3 linked regions of the Homo sapiens genome follow. Each later gene encodes a partner of the first gene's protein in a complex. Each region holds a gene or a part of one and is shown in the gene's direction. Other genes may lie near its edges.

Evidence for each region.
Region 2: SCAP (region 1) and RNF139 share a complex: the UniProt entries of both Homo sapiens proteins name them as parts of the SCAP-SREBP complex.
Region 3: the proteins of SCAP (region 1) and INSIG2 are in contact, whole or in part, in a cryo-EM structure (PDB 7ETW), measured with the Homo sapiens proteins. Residues at the interface, in NP_036367.2 of Homo sapiens: Pro200 (codon at 3,505), Ser206 (codon at 3,523), Val282 (codon at 4,922), Ala283 (codon at 4,925), Glu284 (codon at 4,928), Ile286 (codon at 4,934), Pro287 (codon at 4,937), Thr290 (codon at 4,946), Ile294 (codon at 4,958), Ala297 (codon at 4,967), Tyr298 (codon at 4,970), Phe301 (codon at 4,979), Lys305 (codon at 5,376), Tyr351 (codon at 6,953), Val354 (codon at 6,962), Val355 (codon at 6,965), Glu359 (codon at 6,977), Thr409, Leu410, Val411, Ser638, Tyr639; in NP_001308258.1 of Homo sapiens: Phe41, Val45, Leu48, Leu49, Ile51, Val55, Leu57, Phe58, Pro59, Val62, Ser65, Ile66, Glu104, Trp105, Ser106, Met109, Arg110, Val112, Ala113, Val114, Val116, Gly117, His120, Gln132.

The regions. Positions count from the first base shown.
Region 1 is NC_000003.12:47,423,878-47,430,984, reverse strand, and holds part of SCAP (sterol regulatory element-binding protein cleavage-activating protein), read left to right. Parts: intron 1-2,314; coding exon 2,315-2,472; intron 2,473-3,317; coding exon 3,318-3,538; intron 3,539-3,722; coding exon 3,723-3,828; intron 3,829-4,815; coding exon 4,816-4,988; intron 4,989-5,373; coding exon 5,374-5,500; intron 5,501-6,939; coding exon 6,940-7,052; intron 7,053-7,107. UniProt on the Homo sapiens protein: Escort protein required for cholesterol as well as lipid homeostasis.
Region 2 is NC_000008.11:124,470,940-124,477,917, forward strand, and holds the start of RNF139 (E3 ubiquitin-protein ligase RNF139), read left to right. Parts: upstream 1-3,940; 5' UTR 3,941-4,170; coding exon 4,171-4,351; intron 4,352-6,978. UniProt on the Homo sapiens protein: E3-ubiquitin ligase; acts as a negative regulator of cell proliferation through mechanisms involving G2/M arrest and cell death.
Region 3 is NC_000002.12:118,084,248-118,091,544, forward strand, and holds the start of INSIG2 (insulin-induced gene 2 protein), read left to right. Parts: upstream 1-4,223; 5' UTR 4,224-4,294; exon of another isoform or gene 4,295-4,733; intron 4,734-7,297. UniProt on the Homo sapiens protein: Oxysterol-binding protein that mediates feedback control of cholesterol synthesis by controlling both endoplasmic reticulum to Golgi transport of SCAP and degradation of HMGCR.

The DNA.
Region 1 (7,107 bases):
TTGTGCCCAGGGTCCCAGGAGGCATTAACTTGCTGTGCTTGGTCAGCATCTTGGCCCTTGCCTATGCTGTAACCTGGAGTACTGCATTGGTGAGTGGCTCCATGGCCTCCCTTTCATCCACACGCATGCCCCTTGGAGTTCCCGACTGCAGCCCAGGCGTGGAGACAGCCCCTCATCCCTCAGCTGGGCTGGGCCCTGCCCCCTTCAGTCCACACCTCGCAGTACACCGCTGTCTAGGGCCATGTTTCCTTGTCTCCAGTTGTCACCAACTCCCGGGGAGTCTTTACAGAGCACTGCTTTCATCAGGTTGCCCCTTCACCTCAGAGACACTGGGCTTTGCTTTGTCAACTGATTAAAATCCTGACAGCTCAGTCAGGCTTCAGTCTAAGCCTGCTTGTCATCTTCCTCGTAATTTCTGTTATCCCCTGACAGGTTTCCTTGGTGCAGATGTCCAGGCCTTCTGTGCTCTCAGCATCCCTTGCAACTCACATTCCCTCCTGCTCCTCTCCTACCTGTTCTTTTCTAACCTTATGGCTCTACTCAGCTTCTCCTGGGCCATAACTCTGCTGTGGCTGACCCAGCATGTTTTGGGGTGCTCCGCGACATGCCTGTTACTGAGGGTTGCATATGTGAACACTCTTGTCATTTACATCCCTGTTAAGCTCTTGAAAGGTAGATGGCAGATTCTAGTGAGAAAAGTATGTGATATTTAGTGAGGAGACCTTGGTTTGAGTCCTTACACCACCCTGCCTGGAGTGTGAAGCTCTAGGCAGGCACAATGCCTGAGCCTCTCCTTGCTTCTCATCAGGCTGTTGTGAGGGTCAGATGAAGTGAAATGCCTGATTGTTCATTGTTAATATTTCTGCTAATCTTTCAGACACTGTTTGTATGCGTGTGTGGTGTGTGCATACATCTTGATGCTGCAGGGTGAATGTCGTTATTCCTGTTTCACAATGAGGAAATTGAAATCCAGAGATGTCAAAAGTGTTTTCAAGGCCATATGTTTGGAAAGCTGTGATTTAAAATTGGGTCCTTTGATCTTCAAAACCCGCTACTCTGCTGCAAGTGACAAAACCTGAATCAGTAAGACAGGTTACATGCTTTGGGGAGTGTAGAGTCTATAGTGCGGTCAGCAGACATGTTCCATAAAGGGCTAGATAGTAAACATTTAGGCTTTGCGGGCCAGACGGCCTCTGTTGCAGCCATTTGACCCTGCTGTTGTAGAGTGAAAGCAGCCATAGACAATAGTAATGGTAGGGGTGTGGCTGTGCTTCAGTAAAAATTGGAAGTGGAAAAACAGGCACTAACCAGCCTGGGCAACATAGTGAGACCCCATCTCTACAGAAAATAAAGAAGTTAGCCAGGTGTGGCACTTCGGGAGGCCAAAATGGGAGGATCACTTGAGCCCAGGAGTTCGAGACCAGCCTGGCAACATAGTGATACCCTGTCCCTACAAAACATTTTTGAAAATTAGGCGTGGTGGTGGTGCACACACCTCTAGTCTCAGCTACTTGGTGGGTGGGGGTGCTGAGGTGGGAGGATCTCTTGAGCCTGGGAGATTGAGGTTTCAGTGAGCCATGATTGGGCAATAGAGCAAGACCCTGTCTCAAAAAGAAAAACAGGCATGGGCCCTGATTTGGCCTACAGGCCATCGTTTGCCTACACCTGGTCCCACAGTGCTTTGCCCATAGTAGATGTGTTATTGAGCAAAAGAGGCTCGCTGCCCAATGTGCTAGAAGCCAATACTGTGACACCAGGATTTGGGGAAAAGAAAAGCTTTATATTGAAGGTTGACTCCCTAGGAGACCGGAGTCCAGCTCAAATCTGTCTCCCTGTGCTGGCTTTAAGGCAGTAATTTTATTAGGAAAGGTTTAGAGGGTGGATACTAGGATTAGCAGATGATTGATGGAAGGAAGGGTGATTTCTGGGAAGTCTTTGAGCATGCCCAGTTATCTCTTGATGCCACCTCACAGGTCCCATGTGCAAATTCCGGGGGGAGTTAGTATGAAACATGGCAGTGGAAATTCAGGCTGTGACATCGGCAAGCTCATTCTGCACAACTCCAGTCGGCCATCTTGGTTCCAGCTTATTTCAGCCAGTTCTTTTATCTCATAAGCGGAGGGAGTTTCTGGGTTTCAGCAAATTGTTTCTTTTCTTATCTGCCATCCTGCAAACTCAAGAACTTGTATTAGTCATTGGTTTCTTTAACTCTGTGGGGCACGGTTTCCAATGCCCATTAAATCCCTTGAATTGGACCGTCTTTCTTCTTCCTGTGCTCAGCTGCCCTTTCTGCCCTCCCTCATTTCTTCTGCAGTATGTGGGTGCCCCGGTGGCTTATGTCCAGCAGATATTTGTGAAGTCCTCAGTGTTTCCCTGGCACAAGAACCTCCTGGCAGTAGATGTATTTCGTTCACCTTTGTCCCGGGCATTCCAACTGGTGGAGGAGATCCGGAACCACGTGCTGAGAGACAGGTACCCCTCTCAGGGACCCTGGCCTCCCTGAATCCCATTCTGTACTGAAGGGAGAGTTACAGTCCTCAGTGTAACTGCAGTGAGCCAGTCAGCTCTGCAGAGATAGAACAAGCAAGAAGGATGGAGGGTGAGCTAGCCTTGAATTTCTCAGCATCCTTGTGGGTCTACGGTGGCTGCATTCCGCTTGGACCTATGCAGATGGCACACACATAGCCTTGAGTCTCATCCTTACATCTCAGATGGAGTCAGTGTCCACTGTGCTAACTCATGACCCACATGGCTTCCTGCCTGTGGGTTATGGTGTGAATGTAATGGTGGTGTCTCTGCCGACGAGAAGCAAGCTCTACCTGGGGGTACCTTCTGAAGCCCCAGCCCAAGTCGTGCTCCCCTGCCTATCAGTGGGTCCCTGGGTTATGCTGGCTTGGCATACAATGTGTGTAATTGGCAAGCTGCATCACTGCCAGGTTTTAGTTAGCTAGTGGCGTTGACAGATATTTTGGTGAACTAAATGAAGCCCCTAATTTACCCCGGTCCCTGCTCATCCACTGAACTGGCCAGGGTGTTTTAGTGGGTGGGGTTGTGCATGCTCTTATAGTACACTTGCCCGTCCTCAGAGCTGATGGGCTTTTGGGCTTCAGATGCACTTTGAAAGTCAGACAGCCACATGTTTAGGTTATTGGCCACCTGGAAGTACTTCCCCCTGCTGCCCTAGTGGTCAGGCTCTTTGGCGATACCAGAGAGCAAATATGGGGCATTGAAGAACAGACAGAGGATGTCCCCTAAGTACAGCAGGTCTGCCCTGTGGTGGCAGACACAGCAGGTGCCTTGTCCTGTCTCCTGTGCAGCTCTGGGATCAGGAGCTTGGAGGAGTTGTGTCTGCAAGTGACCGACCTGCTGCCAGGCCTTAGGAAGCTCAGGAACCTACTCCCTGAGCATGGATGCCTGCTGCTGTCCCCTGGGAACTTCTGGCAGAATGACTGGGAACGCTTCCATGCTGATCCTGACATCATTGGGACCATCCACCAGCACGAGCCTAAAACCCTGCAGACTTCAGCCACACTCAAAGGTAGCCCCAGTACAAGTTCCCTTCAGACCTGTAAAGGTGCCCATTGGTCACCGTCTTTTTGATGTGTGCTTAGGCAGATCAGGGTTTACCCTTTGTTTCCCAGGGTGGGGGTGAGAAAGGGGTCCTTGGTGGCTCTGCAGTAGCTGTCATTTCTGTGTCAGTACCTGCTGGTTTCTGCTTGCAGACTTGTTATTTGGTGTTCCTGGGAAGTACAGCGGGGTGAGCCTCTACACCAGGAAGAGGATGGTCTCCTACACCATCACCCTGGTCTTCCAGCACTACCATGCCAAGTAAGATTGACAGTACCCTGGGCTCTTGACTGGTCTGCTGGGTGACATGAGGCTTTGAGTAGTCCCTCTTCTGGTTAGAGTGTTCTGAATGCCCCCTGGAAACTTGGGAGAGTTTCCAGGCCTCCTGTTGAATGTTTACATCCCTCAGACTAGATGATGCTGTCTACCACATTTTAATGGGGATGACCTGACAGCTGGTTAAGCATAGGGGACTAAGGTAGGGCTGGCGGTCTCAGTGTCCTGGTGCCTCCTCTGGTCTCTCTTGAGCCTAGGGCAGGCATCCCCAGCTGGTTACTACTGAGCACCCTATATGGCCTGTGTCCTTCCCAGTGGGGCACTGCAGGCAGCTCCCCAATTGGCAAGGGCACTCGAGGTGCTTCTGATCGGCTCTCCTAGGCCTCTGGCAATCAAGAGTGTTGGAGGCCGGGCGCGGTGGCTCACGCCTGTAATCCCAGACTTTGGGAGGCCGAGGCAGGCGGATCATGAGGTCAGGAGATCGAGACCATCCTGGCTAACACGGTGAAACCCCGTCTCTACTAAAAATACAAAAAATTAGCCGGGCGTGGTGGTGGGCACCTGTAGTCCCAGCTACTCGGGAGGCTGAGGCAGGAGGATGGTGTGAACCCAGGAGGCGGAGCTTGCAGTGAGCCCAGATGGCGCCACTGCACTCCAGCCTGGGCGACAGCGAGACTCTTGTCTCAAAAAATAAAAAATAAAATAAATAAATAAATAAAAAAGAGAGTGTTGGAGTAGGTCCGGAAAGGGAGACAAAGAAAGGAGCAGGGGGAGCTCCTGAGAAAACTTTGTCCCCTTTGTGATTTTCCCAGTGCCCCTGGAGACTATAGAGAAGCTCAGGCACCATAGAGAAGTTCCCTTTCAACACAGGGGCAGGAGGGAGGTCCTGATGGACCCTCTGTCCGGGGATTGTCTTTGTCCCCAGAACCAAGAGCAACACTTCCATTTACCCCCACCCTGCTCCTTGACCAGGTTCCTGGGCAGCCTGCGTGCCCGCCTGATGCTTCTGCACCCCAGCCCCAACTGCAGCCTTCGGGCGGAGAGCCTGGTCCACGTGCACTTCAAGGAGGAGATTGGTGTCGCTGAGCTCATCCCCCTTGTGACCACCTACATCATCTTGTTTGCCTACATCTACTTCTCCACGCGTAGGTTCATGGCAGGGAGGCTGAGGGCTTTCTCCAAGCTAAACGGGCATTTCCATGTCACCTGCTTCCCTGGCTCTGGAGGTGGCTTGGGGTAGAGAGATAGAACACACCTGGTGGTCATCAGAGCTAGGGCTTTGTCCCCCAGCAGGGTCTTAGGAGCTTGGGTGGGGCCGGGGCTCTTCCCACTTTCAGCCCCTTCCTGGGTTAGGGTTCCTAAAAGGTGTACTGTGTCCATGACACTGGGAAGTGCTTGTGCCTGTCCCTTTCCTTTGGTGAAACCAGGAGTTTTCCCTTCCTCGACTGTCAGGGCAACCTACTCCCGGGAGCCCCAGTGGGCCGGGGGCTGGGGGAGGGGCCGCCCTGATACGCCCTCTCTGCCCTCCAGGGAAGATCGACATGGTCAAGTCCAAGTGGGGGCTGGCCCTGGCTGCCGTGGTCACAGTGCTCAGCTCGCTGCTCATGTCTGTGGGACTCTGCACACTCTTCGGCCTGACGCCCACCCTCAATGGCGGGTAGGTCCCTAGCAGGCTCCACTGGGCCACAGGGTGGGCTCAGGCCAGAGAGCCTTGCACTTCTGGGTTCTTGGCCTTCCCTGGACTTTGCTGTGACCTCACGTCTTCACATTGTTGTTTTTGACATTTAAGAGGTACATTTTCTTCCTCTTCTTTGTCTGGCTTGTATTCATACTTGTGTTTGTATATAGCATATCTAGCTATAGTGAGTGTCCATATGTACAAAAGTGCATATTTGTGGGCTGGGTGTGTATATAAGGGGTGTGTGTTGGTATGTTTGTGTATACATGAGTATGTATTGCATGTGTGTAGTCGGATTTGTGTGTCTGTGTTTATGTATTCTATATACACACACCACACACACACTGCAGCTTGATGGCTTAAGCCACTGGAGGTGTGAGATAGAGAAGAGAACATTTTTTTTTTCATGATTAGAACATTTAAATGCCTAATGAAATAGGTCATTTTAGAGGAAGCTCTTTGGAAGATATGAGCACACTGTAATTTGTCGCCTTTTTCACTGATGTTTACTTTCCCCTTGCCACTCCTCTCTGAACCTTAGTCTGGAAGCCCTTCCCTCGGCTTGTCCTCAGGCTTTGATCTTGGCTCTGGCTAGGCCCGCCTGCCTGTCTATTAATGGTTATTAATGGATTATGGATTGGCCTGTCCACCACTTTGGCCCATCAGGCTGGTCGTATGAAAAGCGACGTCGTATTTTGTTTCTGGTAGTTTCGTTGCTCTTAGATACCTGCTCCCTTTCCTGAGCTTGACACTGTTAAACACCACCCTCCCCCATACCGTCTGCCATACCCTTCACAGGGCCCTCCCTTCCTTCGGCTCCAAAGCAGAGGTCCTGCAAGGTATAACTTGGCTGGCGTTCCTCGCACATAGACTTTCTTAGGGTTTGCTGCGGGGAGTGTGGGACAGTGGGCTCAGATAGCTGGTAGAGCTTTGTGTAGGAACAGTCGTTCTTCTCCACACACAGCTTCTCAACAAAGGTGAGTGGGCCTTCAGGATGGTTTCATCTCCTTGCATTTAGCTGTGATGGGTCCACCCAGAGTTACTGGTGTGGGTCTTGGCAGCAGTCATTGTCTTTAGCCAGCAGTCTTCTCCTGGGAAGGGCCAGCAGAAGTGTGGTCTAGCAGTGGCGCTGCACAGCTCTCCCTGAGGGGCCTCTTCCAGCCCTCCTGTGCTGGATGGCTAGAGACAGGATGGCTGCTGGCCCCTCTGCAAGGCTCTGGAGCCTGCCTGAAAGCTGAGTGCTGTGTAGATGCAGGTCTTGTTGGGTGAGGTGGACAAGGGAGGGTTTCTGCCCAGCACCTGTGGGAGTCACTCAGCAGCCCCCATGACAGGCTGGAAACCCCACAGCCTTCCTGAGGGCCCCAGTCTGTTGGGAACCACCACAACACTGTCCTCACCTTCTCCTTCTCTGTCCCCAGCGAGATTTTCCCCTACCTTGTGGTGGTTATTGGGTTAGAGAATGTGTTGGTGCTCACCAAGTCTGTGGTCTCAACCCCGGTAGACCTGGAGGTGAAGCTGCGGATCGCCCAAGGTAACGCAGTGGGAGAGTTGGGCAGAGGGCTGCAGGAGGGGCTGGAATGGGGCCT
Region 2 (6,978 bases), on another chromosome or scaffold:
CTGGTGGTGTTTGGGTCATGGGGACTGATCCCTGATGGCTTGGTGTTGTCCTCACCATAGTGAGTTCTCATGAGATCTGATTGTTTAAAAGTGTGTGACACCTATCCCCACCCCCTCGCTCCTGTTTTTGCCATGTGAAGTGCCTGATCCTACTTCACCTTCCACCATGAGCAAAAGCTTCCTGAGGCCTCCCCAGAAGCAGATGCAGGCACTAGGTTTCCTGTACAGCCTGTAGAACCGTGAGCCAATTAAACTTCTTTTCTTATAAATTACTCAGCCTCAGGTACTTATAGCAATGCAAGAATGGCCTAATATAGGTGGTCTCTCCTGGGACTTGAAATCTTGAGGAATAATGAAAATAACCCCTTAATAAATTCCCTTTTTGCTTAAGATAACCCAGAAGAATCAGTTTCTGTTGTAGGAAACAAAGACTTCATTAATGCAAATGTCAAGAGAAAATTCAAACTAGTTTTTACACATCCTACCTGTAAAAGTTTTGAAAGCTACTAAAAGGCTTTCTGAGCTGTTAAATCTGAAGGATTTATAACAGATTGTTATTTTCAAACACGAGTATTCTATGTATACAGTTTGTGTGTGTGTGTATTCACACACACACACACACACACTCATGAACCACACTGTGCAGACTCAATATAAATGTACACCTGAGTTGTGCAACATTCAAATCAATGCAGAAATCAAGCAAAGATTAGATTCAGTGAATTGTAGCTATTTCTTGGAAACATTACCTTTTTTTTGAGACAGGGTCTCACTCTGTCACCCAGGCTAGAGTACAGTGGCGTGATCTTGGCTCACTGCAACCTCTGCTACCCAGGCTCAAGGCAGGCTCAAGTGATCCTCCCACCTCAGCCTCCTGAGCAGCTGGTACCACAGGCCTATGCCACCATGCCCAGCTATTTTTTTTTCCCCCAAGACAGAGTCTCACTCTGTCACCCAGGCTGCAGTGCAGTGGCGCCATCCTGGCTCACTGCAACCTCCGCCTCTCGGGTTTAAGCAATTCTCCTGCCTCAGCCTCCCAAGTAGTTGGGATTACAGGTGCCCACCATCACACCCGGCTAATTTTTGTATATTTAATAGACATGGGGGTTTTACCATGTCGGCCAGGCTGATCTCGAACTCCTGACCTTGTGATCCGCCCGCCTCGGCCTCTCAAAGTGCTGGAATTACAGGTGTGAGCCACCGCGCCCAGCCCACATCCAGCTATTTTTACAATTTTTTTGTAAAGATATAGTTTTGCCTTGTTGGACAGGCTCGTCTTGAACTTCTGGCTCAAGCAATCCACCCTCCTTGGCCTCCCAAAGTGCCGGGATTTCAGGCATAAGCCACCACACCCAGCTGGAAACATCTTTTATCTTAAAAATTCCTAAGCATCCTATAAATTACCTCATTACTATAAATTTAATTTTAACGTAGTATTTTAACACAGTTGCCAGGACCTCATTCAAACCTTCATTTTATAGATGGAGAAAGAGAGCTCACACAGGGGTGTCCAAGGGAGATAATACAGTCATGGGTTCTTAGTTTCCGCTTCTGGTTGGGTCAGTAAATACCTCCTCATCTCTCTTTTCCGCTTATCACTAGAAACAGAAACTAAAAACCATGGCTTCAGGCTGTTAACAGCCTAAAACAAAACAGAACAACAACAGTAACAAAATAAGGTGGGTTGGACAAGTTTGGCAGAGAGCCTGCTTGGAGAAGCTGTGTGAAAAAAAAAAAAGACTGCCACCGCTCCTGAAAGTTCTCGGCCCAAGATGGAATTTAGTCAAAGAAACTCTTACACTAATAAAATTTGTACATCAAATTAAGATCAGGGACAGTTAAAACATTAATAAAGACTGAAGCATTTGTTCATTTAAAAAATTTTATTTAATATTTACATTTATTTTTAAAATAAAAATTAGAGGAAAGCCCATGAACTCATTTTCCATGAACATAATATAATAGTACTCACCTATCTCCTCTACCCAACTTGTGTTTTAGATGAGTCCTTTTGGATCTTTTTCCCCATAATGGCCTCTCTCCTTTTGCTTTACAGTGCAATCAGGGCAGAATAACAGATATGTTGAGTAGCTAATTTATATTTCTGAAGATCTCCATAGAACTCTTAAGTTCTAAGTCTTCATAGTCTTTGCACCTTGCCAAGTTTGCTTTCCTTTGGGAATTCTGTCATAACCACAAGGTTATTCCCCAGACATGCAGTTTGGGGAAATTAACCCGGCAGTAGTAAACAGACTGGATTAGAAAAGGTGGCAGTCGTAATAAGGATATTCCAATAACCGGGGAAAGCTACAGAAGGATCTTGAGTTAGGATGATGACAGTTACAATAGAAAGGAGACCAGTACAAGAGACGGTGAAAACAGAATGGATACAATTTAGTTGAAGAATTGGCTGTGGGTGAAAAGAAGAAATCAAAGATGCCTGAAGTTGTGAGTTTCAGGTAGCCCTGAGTTTATAATCCTAGTTCTGACTCGTACTATCTTTGGATATACTAGCTGCTGACTACTAACTGAACAAGGTAGTAACCTTGTCATCTTGTAACTTACCTAAGTCTGTTTCCTCCTCTATAAAACAAACTATCAAAATAAAGCCGATGAAAAGATTGAAGTAAAACATAAAACCCTTAGCACAGTGCCTAGTATCCATTAAGCAGTAGATAAATGATGGCGGTCATTATTAGGGAGTAGGGTAAAGAACAGAAGGTTAAAAACATGAGTAGCAGTAAGGACTTTTGGGTGGGGATTCGGTCTTTCTACTACACATTACACATACCTCTAAGCAGAGAAAGGGGTTGGAGGGGAGTTTGATAATGTGACTAATAATCCTCCTCCCCCTGGGGGGGATCTTGATAAAGGATAGCCACCCACATGGAGGCCTAATATAAACTGGATTGCAGAATGCACTTGAGCTGGGAGCCCAAGCGGGCCAGGCTTCTTGATTCCTATTTTATCCCCTTTAACCTAGGATAGCTAGGTCTATAGTGCAGACTCAGACCTAACTTACACTTTCATTTGCAGCTGAAGTTTCGGAACAAAGACAAAGATAGCCAGATCATATTAATTACACGGATAGGCAAGAAAGCATGAGCCCTGAGGAGGAAGGAAGGGACTGTCCAGGTGTACTTACCTCAAAGATGAGAAATATCAAAGACAGGAAACCCTAGGTTCTTGCCCTTCAGTCGCTATCTCCTTGCCATTAGTAAAATGCGGCCGATGAATGTCCTCACTTCTGTCCATCTGGGCAGGAGGTGGGAAGGGTGACGTGCAAATGGATGGGAGGAACCCTTTTTTCGGCAGCACCCACCACACCCAGCCTAGTGCCACGCACCGCAAGCGCTCCATAAACGCACACAGCGTCGCCTCTACCAGGATCCCGGGCGGCCTTCGCGGGATTTCTCCTGGCGTCGGCTTTCAGACTCCCGAGGGTGGGATAAATCGAGAGGGTGGCATCCTTTGGCTTTTCTTCTCCCAGGCAGCTCTGAACCATGTTTATGCAACGTTTAATGGGCTCTAATAAAACGGCTAATAATTTTGATCCGCGGAAGCACCGACTCGCTCGCTAAGCCGAATCTGCGAGGGTGAAGCTGCAACTCCAACGCCGGAAAGCGCGGCTACCGAAAAGCGCATGCGCCACGGGGTGGCACGAAGCTAGAGTAAGCTGAGGAGGTGGGCGGAAACCATGGCAACCATGGGTGATGACGACATGGGGAGCGTCTCTAGCGCTGGATTATGACGCTGGATTATGACGCAGGCAGTGGGCGCGGACTCTGCGGTTCGCTTGACTGACGGCGCAGCCTCCGGGCCTAGCCACAGCAGCAACGGCAGAGGCCAGCGGGCGAGGTCAAGATGGTGGCTCCGCGGGCGGGGGAGGCAGTGGAGGGAGGAGGAGTCAGACCTTAGCCAGCCGGAAACACCGAAACCCAGAGACCTCCTGGGGAGCCGCCGCCGCCGCCCTCTCGGCCATCGCTGCCTCCGCCGCCTGCTCCACCTCGAGGGACGCGAGCGGGCGGCGGGGCTGGCCGTGAGAGAGACAGGAGAGGAAGGAGGGCAGGGGCGGAGTTGCCCGCCTTAGCCCCCGCCCCCGGCCGCGGCCCCGGGCCCTGCCCCGCGCGGCCCTGCCCGGCCCACCGAGCCCTGGTGTGGCAGCGGCTCATGGCGGCCGTGGGGCCCCCGCAGCAGCAGGTGCGGATGGCCCATCAGCAGGTCTGGGCGGCGCTCGAAGTGGCGCTCCGGGTGCCCTGCCTTTACATCATCGACGCCATCTTCAACTCCTACCCGGATTCCAGCCAAAGCCGGTTCTGCATCGTGCTCCAGATCTTCCTCCGGCTCTTTGGTAAGGGAACAGGGTACCGTACGTCCCGGGACGGCTATGCGGGCCGAGACGTTCCCCGGGGAGCGGGCAGGCGCGCAGAGGCCATGGGTCGAGTATGTGTCTTTGGGAACTACAGTTTCATCCCTCAAAGGGTCGTCTTTACGGGTTGGGAGGGGGAAGGAGATGATACTTGTCTGAGTTGACAGCGGAGCAGTCCCCCTAGCGAGGATTCAGTGTTGTACCTGAGTGAGGTGGGGAGAAAGTAAGGATGTGTGAGCATGCAGCTCTTTGCCCGTTTGCCTTGGGAAATGAGTACTGGCTTACCGCGTCCTATGCGACAGCCTTCGAAAAACAACTCTGCTATCCCAGTCTCGTCGTGTGTGACCTTGGACTTCTGCCAAGGCGTGGGCCTCAGTTTCCCTTTATTACCAAATGCCGAGTACTTGTATGTTGTCACTTCTGCTGCACCCGAGGGTCCACAGGATCGTGAAGTGTCTGCAGTAAATGACATCCAAGCGAAGGAGACAGGGTTTTGAATGTCAGACCTTGAAACCATTACCAAAAATTCTCATGAAAGCGGCGATGCTTAAATCGAGTCCTAAAATTTTCCATGAATAAACGAGAAGGTATTGAAAGTGACTGTAAAAAGTGATGAGACATTTGCCAAAGAGACTTCTGAAAATCATTGTCTTTGTTTCGTATGGATGGAGTGTTAAAAGTATCTTATATTTCATTTCTTCCTTTCCATCTTCACTTACATCATCAGAGGGAGATGCATTTATGCGTAAAATAATTTTTTAAGTAATTGTAACTTGGCAAATTTTGTTGATGAGGTAATTCTGGTGATCGGTCTTAAGTAGGCTAGTGCTTTTGAAGTGTTGCTGAGGGCAGACTGATGGTGAGGTCTTTACCAAGCCTTTCTGAATTACAAGCCATCTGTTGCTTTATTCCTTCAAAAGAGGAGTGGCAATAAAGGCCGAATTTTGTTCTTAGCAATAAATAGCCATATTTTACATTTATCTGGTATTTTCCTTTTGCAAAGCATTTTCACTGGTAGGTATTATCTAACCTAACCTTCAAACATCCCCCAGAGGTGGGTGGTGGTATTGTCATTTTACAAACCAGGAAACAGGGTCATAGAGGTTAAGTGTTTTGCTCTTGGTAGGCTGCCGCTAAGTGGTTGCCAGAGCCTGAGCTTAAAAATCTTTTGACATTAAATATGGTTTACTTTCCTCCCTAACAGCTGCAATCCAGATACAGAATGCAGTAGTAATGATCATATGCTAGATCTTAAAACTAAAGATGTAAACGTGATGTTCAGCCCAAGCTGCTTCAGTAACCCACCTGCTACCTAATTCCAGCCTTTCCTACTTGCCACTGCTAACGTATACCACCACCATAATTTGTGTTAAAAACTGGGCTCTGTTTGAGAGGATTCTGCATGTTCATCCCAGAAACAGTGTAGTGACTGCTTTGAATATTCTTACAGCATGATAACTGCAGATTCTGTGAGAATCCCTTTGGGACCTGGTGCTTTAATGCAGTAGTCTGTTGAGCTTCAGGTTAGGCAGCTTCAAGGAAAAGAAGTATTTTCTTTAATTAAATAATTTGTAGTGTAAGAACATTGAACAAAGCAATCTGATATTTTCCTTGTACTAGGCATGTTTCTTTTGTAATAAATCTTGGAAGTTTGTGTTTGACAAAGAACAACATGACTTAAGGCAACTGCTCAGTGCTTTGGTTTCTTATTTTTACCTTTTAAAAGATGGAGAGTGAGGTTATCTGTTTCATAGGGTGTTAAAGACAATAAATCTATTTTAATGCTTCATTTAATACCATATTTTGTTAGATATTTTGGTCTTTTGAAATCATCGGCAAAATATTGGTGTTGTTTATTTGAAAATTTTGATCCCTGGAATCTCTGGATCAGACTTTGAGAAATACGAAATACTCTTCAAATCTATCATCCGACTCTTCTTACTGTGTCATGTAATTATGCTAATTTTTCACATTTGTAAGGATGATAAGAATGAAAAAAACTGATTTCGGTGCTAAAAAATTATGTTACTAAAAGACACAGGTTTGTGTGTAAATATGCCAATGGATAGTTGAAATTAATCGTTCTGCCTTGTTAGTTTTTTTGTAGTTGTAGACTTCTCAGTACTACTGTGTATAAGTCTTACCACTTGTCAACCTCACTTTTTTCTTTAAAATTAATGTGTAAAAATGGAAATCTCTAAGTAAAAAGCATTACCAGTTTTATGTGTGGTGGTAGAAGTATTTACTCCCCTCTACCTACAAAATGGTGCTACAACTGTACCTTCATTTGATATCAAACTAATTTGAGATTTCAACCGGTTAGAAAATAAAGCAACTCATTTTGGAGATCCAAATAAAATTCTATGACAATATATGGAATATTGAAGAACATAAAGCTGTGTTTTAAGGGATGTTAAATACTAAACGAAACTCAACCCAGAGCAGCATAATGCTGAGTTAGCAAATTTAAATCCAAGGCAGAAAATGCAAGCCTAGGAGTTTGTTTTAATAGTATTACTAATATGGTGATAATTCATTGAGGTGGGAAAAGGCTTTAAACATAACAGAAGACCCAGAAGTTCCAAGGAAAAATCTGAAAAATTTCAGTA
Region 3 (7,297 bases), on another chromosome or scaffold:
AAAAATTCCAAACACAGCATACGCTTTATGCAAGGCATGTTTTCAACTACCTCCTATTAAGTCAATAATTCCAGATCTTCATTTCTAGACCAATTTGGGGATTCAAACTCCAGATGCACATTTCCACTGCTCTACTGGACATTTTTACCCGAATGTTCAACAAGTATTTCAAACTCACTCAACCTGAAATTCAATTCTTGTACTCTTGTTCTAGATCAATGATGTTACTTTCACTCAGTCTCTCAGGCTCAAAACTTTGAAATCAACTTCCACCTTCTTTTCTTCACTCCTAACATTAGCAGTTATCAAGTCCTGATGATTCTTTGTATCCTCTGCCATTGCCTTTGTTAAGTTTGCACCACCTCTCAGCAGACAATCGCACTAGCTGCCCACGTAGATTCCCTGTCATCAGTTGCCTACATCAATCTAGCTTAAAATAGGAAAAATATATCTGATCTCATTGAGAGTTCTCAGTTGACTTGCTTCTGTAGAGGTGGGCTGACCTAACTTCTGCATTTCCAGGCTGTGAATTTATTGATGGCAAGAGATCTGTCTTATTCATTGTTGTGTCTCAGTGTTTAACAGAGTTCCCACATGTAACTGCTGCTTACTACGTGCTTGTGAATGTTGACAGGGCACTAGTGAGTGACTAAGAGCATAGGGTTTAGAATCCAATAGATCTAGGTTCAATTTCTGCCTTCTCTGCCACTTAGCTATGAAGTGACCTTGGACTGATTAACACTAAGTCAGTGATTCTCAACGCTCAGGTGGGGCTCGGGCACTAGAACTTTTAATAAATCTATGGGTGATCCTAATATGCAGCCAAAGTTAAGAATCACTGCTTTTAGCCTTAATTTCTCATCTGCTATTTGGTATCTATTTCAAATGGGTTTTGAGCATGTGAAATGAGATTTAACTTAGCACAGTGCCTGGCACACAGAAAGTGATTACCATCAATCATGATGTTAAAATACAACTTCAATTTGCAATTTTCTTTTCAATTGCTACCCCCAGCTCTGCCTTTCTTTCAATTCCCAGAATGCACCAAGTTTTTCAGCTTTTGTGCCCTCACACCTGTTCTTCATCCTGCTCTTAGCAGATCCCTCTCAATCTTCAGCTCACGCATGGTCTCCAGGTATTCCCCTTTATTCTCCATCACAATATGGAGATGTTCCATCTTCATGGCACTTGTCTCAGTTTGTAATTACATATGAATTCCACCATTTACTGTGTTTCCCCCACAGGACTCTAGCTTCACAAAGGAATGTGGCTTGTCTGTATTGATTTCCTCCTAAAGTCCAGTGCCAAGTGTCTGGTACCTGCCAGGTGCTCAGGTGATAGCTGGCTTAGTAAATAATCCATTCTGATCTCTCAAAAAAGCAAAATTCCTTGACTTTCTATGTCCCTCAAACATATTTCACATCAAAACACCGTAACAAAAACCAAAACCAAAAAAGTAGAATGGTCTGTAGTGTGTGGGGTTCTAGCTACTGAATAGGAAAATTGCAATAGTAAAAAAATTATCTTGGATGTTTTTAATTTGGGTAATGTTTCCAAGTCCAAGGTTCTTAGAGGCTTACTGAATGGCTTAGTCATCAACCTGTAGGCAATAATTAATGTGACTCCTACAATATCTCACTCCAACAAAGTCAATAAACTTTTGTGGGTGTTTGTATTAGCTAAGTAAAGGGCTTTTTGTTTTCTAACTTATCTTTGATCTTCTTGGTTGGGAGACCAAACAACATATAAAGCTAATGGAAAAAACCTTTCTTGAGGTCAAGAATTATCAAATTGTTGATACTTCTACCTATAAAAAAGACCTCAGAAATCATCTAAACCAATCTCTCATTTTACAGATGAAAAGAAGAAAGCCTAAAAAAATGAATTTATTGCAAGTGATTACACGCATACTGTCTTAGTGCTAAAATACAATCCAGGTTTCAAGGATCATTCACCAGCGTTCCATTGACCACATTACACCAACTTCAAAATAACTCAGTTGTTATGATTTCTTGATGTTCTTAACCAATTTATATTCTGGCATCAATTAATTTAGGATTTCCATGTTTCCATAACAAAAATTTAGTCCAAATTCATGAGCCTGATGTTTAGAACTCACATGTCTCACCATACCTCTTTGTACATGCCAGACTCTGCAATCTGTTTCATGTTTTTCCAACTCTGAGCTTCCACCAGAATGCACAGGCTAACCATATCTGCATATTTACCCTCAACGCCCACTGAAAGACCACATCTTCCATGAAAACTTTCCTCAAATCTGGTCAAAGAAGACAATGGCCTTTTGTATTTCTCCTAGGGATTTTATATTCCTCCTTGTACTGCAGTAGGAGTAACTGCATTAGATATAGGAACCTTGGAACTGGTGCTATATGGTTTTTGCTTTTTAGGTTCTGTCACTACTTGCAATTAATACATATTTAAACGAAAATAAATGCCCCTCTAGGTTACAATGTTCCATAAGGATTTTCTTGAAGGCAATTTCTAAGTGTCTGAAAAAAGCTCGGTTGGAGTAGACATGAACTGGACATACAGGACTTGTATTGCTTTAAGGAAATACATGATGTCAGAACATTTTCAAATTATTGTCTCTTTTCTGAATGCTTTCTCTATTCTTTTAAAAATCATCGTCCATTCTGTATAATTGGCCCAGATCTTTCTTACTGGTAGTGTAAAAACTTACAGGAGTGAAATTTGAAAGCTACAGAAAACATTAGAGAAAACACTAAGATATAGGAAATGTTAGAGAAGCATCATGCAAATACTTGCCTAGAAACATTTTGTTGGAATTCAGATTCTTTTTCAATTTTCAGAAGTAAATGTAGATAAAAAGGTCAAAAAACAAAAATCCATCTTATCGTTTATCAGTTCAAAGTAAATGAAAGGAGTTTACCATCTGACAGTCCTTTGGAAAACTATTATGCAATTACTCTCGGCCCAGATTTCATCTAGAACATTCAAGTCCATTGTAATCTTACCACATCCATACACGTTTTGGGTTAAGCCACCTCCAAATGGAATAGCTCAATAACTAATACACTCAAGAGAGATTATTTTTTCTCTCTTTTTAAAAAGAGTTGCTTAAAAAAAACAAATTCAGGGGGCAGCTCACGCCTGTAATCCCAGCACTTTGGGAGGATGAGGCGGGCGAATCACGAGGTCAGGAGTTTGAGACCAGCCTGGCCAATATGATGAAACTCCATCTCTACTAAAAATACAAAAAGTAGGCAGACATGGTGGCATGTACCTGTAGTCCCAGCTACTGGGGAGGCTGAGGCAGAAGAATCACTTGAACCCGGGAGGCAGAGGTTGCAGTGAGCCGAGATCATGCCAGTGCACTCCAGCCTGGGTGACAGAGAGAGACTCCGTCTCAAATAAATAAATAAATAAAAATAAATAAAAATTCAGAATAGGGAAGCAACTCCTCCTTATGACGAGTACCTTTCGGCACTTATATGGGCTTGCTTTTGCATTGATGGCACCACTTTCATTCAAAAAAAAAAGTTCGCTTGCACAATCTGCAAAGATCTGTTTGGCTTGGTTTCATGTTCTAAAAGTATGGTTTTAGATTAAATGAAAAATAATACTTCTGAAAAATAAGCGGTTATAAGGTTTTTAAGTTTTCTTTATGTTGGTGTAAACTTATAAAGCCCTTCCTATGAAAACTGTCCCCCAAATCACATTACTTGGTCGTCCTCGAGGAACGATTTTGAATGAAAAGCACATAAAGTGCTGTAGCATGGAGACGAGAGACAAATAACTATGCCCTTCTCCCAAAATAAGTTATGACTTACTAGGGGAGGAAAAGGAGCAAAGAGTATAAAGCCCGGTCCTCTGCGGGAAGTACCCGGAGGCCTGCCCCGGAACGCGCTCCTTTCGGCTACGAGATGAGGGGCACGCAGACGGACGCGCCCCTCGGTGAGTGTGCGTGTATCAGTGCATGATTCCTTTACTCCGCCCACAGGGTCTGGGCATCCGTCATTACCTACGGCTGCCTGGTCAGCAAACAACAGCAGATCCGACAACCGCCAGTCACCTCGACGGTCCACGCCCACCGCTAGCCTCCAGTTTCCCGCAGACCGGAAGCCCTTTTGCCCCGGCTCGCAGGTCCACGTCTTATTGACAGCAGGAACCGGAAGCTCTTCTGCCCCGATCGCCTGCGCGCGGCCTCGTTGGCCGCACAGGCGCAGTGGAGCTCGGGCGGAGTTGTGGGAGTGGAGGAGGAAGAGGCGGTAGGGGGTACGGGGGCTGGTCCCAGAAGATGGCGGAGGCGGGGGTGAGTTGGGGGTCTCCCGGCGAAGCGCGGGTGACGTGGTGCTGAGGAAAGCGGCCTGAGGAGGAGGGTGGCCCTTGGGAAGAAGAACTACTTGTGTTTTTGCAGCCTGGGAACCCTGGTGGCAGGTGCGGGGAGCCAGGACCACTGATGGGCCTGCAGGGCAAGGGGCTCCGCTTACCTGAGAGGGGTCCGCAAGGTCCAGAAGGGGACTGCGGGATCGGGGAGGGGGTATAGGAGGGGTCGAGGCTCCCCGGACAGTGGATGAGTGTCTGAGCGGGAAGAAGGCTGGAGGACGGCGAGAAGGGCGACCCAATGGTCTGATGAGGTGGAGGTCAGCGAGCTGTCAAGCATAGAGCTGCCAGGACTTGGGGGCTTGTAGCCTGGGAGAGAAGACTCAGACTTGGGCGGGGATTGGATCCAAAGAAGACAGGTTGTCGTAGTAAGTTTATAATCCACTAAGGAGATAGGGCATTGGGTTGAGGAGTAATACTCTGGCATTTTTGACTGGAATTGGTTACCTATGGAATAGGTGTTTCGGTAAAGCCAAATAATTCTTGCCAGGGCCTAGAAGTGGATTTGATGATAATTACTAGATTTTAGGGTTGCTTAGTGGGGATTGGCAATATGGAGAAGGAAAGCAGTGTGGATTATGGGAGTGGGCGCGGGCAATGGCGCTAACACTTAAGTGATAATGACCCATGTCCAGTTAACGTTGGAAAAAGTTGTTAAAGTATGATATTAGCTAGATGCTCTAGGAAAATATACCATGAAGAACTTGCTGTTTTGTAGGATTGATGAAGAAATGCTTTAAAAAGGAATGGTTAGGCTTGGCAGCTGGGCCACTGAAACTGTTTGGTATCAGTATTGCGGTGGAGCTGAGGACTGCAGGGGAATGCGTGCTCCCGTCCTGGTGCAGAAAAAATAAAAGCAGCCAGACAGTAGCTAGATGGTGTTTTGTAACTTTTGGGTTTGGCCCTGATAGTGAACCACTGAATGAAGATGGATGAAGGGAATGCTACTAATGGGGGCCCCAAAGAAAACAAAAATCAGACGTGTGCTCTTCCTGTTTTCTGTCTTTCATTCTTTCCCTGTACTTTGTGCTCAGTACTGTGTTTTGTCATTGTGTTATGTCGTAGTTCTCAGTTCACATCTGCTGTACAGTGACCAAGCTGTGAATCATGTCCACTCGGGAAAGAGGTTGATTCTGTTTAACTGACAACTGTTGCTTTTGCAGATGGTCACACGGAAAAGGAAAGAATAAAATGCAGTTCAGTAGTTTAAAGAGTTTTCTTTGTTCTCAGAAACTTATCTCGAAACGATGGAGTAACTTTTTTAGGCACTGAGATGTGACATTTAAAACCTGTAAGGGGCTGTAAATGCAGCTAACTTACTGGTTTCTATGTTTGGGTTTTAATGTTGAGAGGAAAGAGTTGCAGTGTTTATAAGGCAAATATTGCTTTTCTTCCTAGAAATTTTTAACGTCTCTAGCCCATGATACATGTAGATGTGTTTTTATTTAGGGAGCATTAAACTGTTGCATTGATTTAAGTCTGTTTTTTTCTAATGTTAGTGCTTATTCTATTTCAAGAATGCTATTCTAATTAAGAGAGCATATGATGAAAAATATGTGAGGTAGTAATTTAACTTTATTATTTAGTAGCTTACGTGACCTAAGCACCTGAAGAAACAGGGTTATCTGAGGGAGTAAAAATACTTCTTTTACGGCTAATCATTGGAAGAGGAATGGTCTTGTCATTTGGTTTTAGGGGGTGTTGCAGTTGTTACAATGCAACAGGTTCTTAAGGTTACTAGAAGATTTTGTATGTGTGTTTGTTTTCAAATGCTTGTTGCCTCTAAGTTGTTTCAGTGGCCAACATGAACCTTGATTTTTATTCACGAAGCTCATAATCACTTATAACTCTTTTTTAACCTGAAAGTAATAATATCAATCCATTAATAGGCAGCCATACACCTGGAATAATGTTTTTCCAGTATTGATGATTCATCATTGATCTATGCAAATTATTTCAACTTTTTTTCTTTTTGTTTAGTATTGTACTTTCCAGAAATTTTAGGCCAGGGCTCAGCGTAGAATTTTTCAAGTCTGGTGGAAAGTTTTTCTTTGTGAATTGTTGAAAACATTATTTTGGTATTAATAGTAGTTTACCAACATGATTTTAAAAACGGTTTCTTGTGTGGCACTTAAATTGTTTTGTACCATGTTTGTGAATGGAAGCAGTGTGGTGAAGCAGGAAGAACTCCGGACATGGGGTCAGAGTGGGTGAGCCTAGTCCTGGTGCTACCTGGTAACAGTTCTGTGATCTTGGAAAGTTACTTAACCTATTTTATTTTGTAAAATGGAAACTAACAACACCTGCCTATTTACCAAGATTGTTTTCGAGAATCTATTGACATATTGTCCTTTAAACAGTATCTTTATACCAGAGACTTTTTCCCTGGTCAGCAAATTATTTGTCAAGTAATCTAAATTTTTCAAATATAGATTTTTAAAAAAAATTTTGGAGCATCAAGTTTATCATTAATGTAAGACTAATATTTAAAGATATAGATCCACTTTGTTTTAAGAAAATGGTATCAGTACAAAATCAGAAAAACAAACTTCAAAGTAAACTAAGGGAGCTTACTTTCCCTTGAAAATAACCCACTCCTCTGACTCCTCTAGTGTGCAACTGATATTATAAACATGCTTTTAAAGGAATTTCATTGTTGCATGGTAGGGGGTGAAATGGTTTTGTGGACGCCTCTATCCCTTTGATGAGTCTGGTCATTTTCTGGCATTCACTATACACGTTTGTGGTAATAAGAACTGATGGTACTGTCTTAATCTTGTTAATCCAGTTGACTACTTTGCATGTCATTGGCCTTGCTAATAGAGTGAGAGAATTGTTAGATTACTGATTCTTTACTTTGTTTGGATCATGGACTTTTTTGAGTACTTTATATAAATTATGGAACTTTCATCCCAGAAAAAAATGCATATAT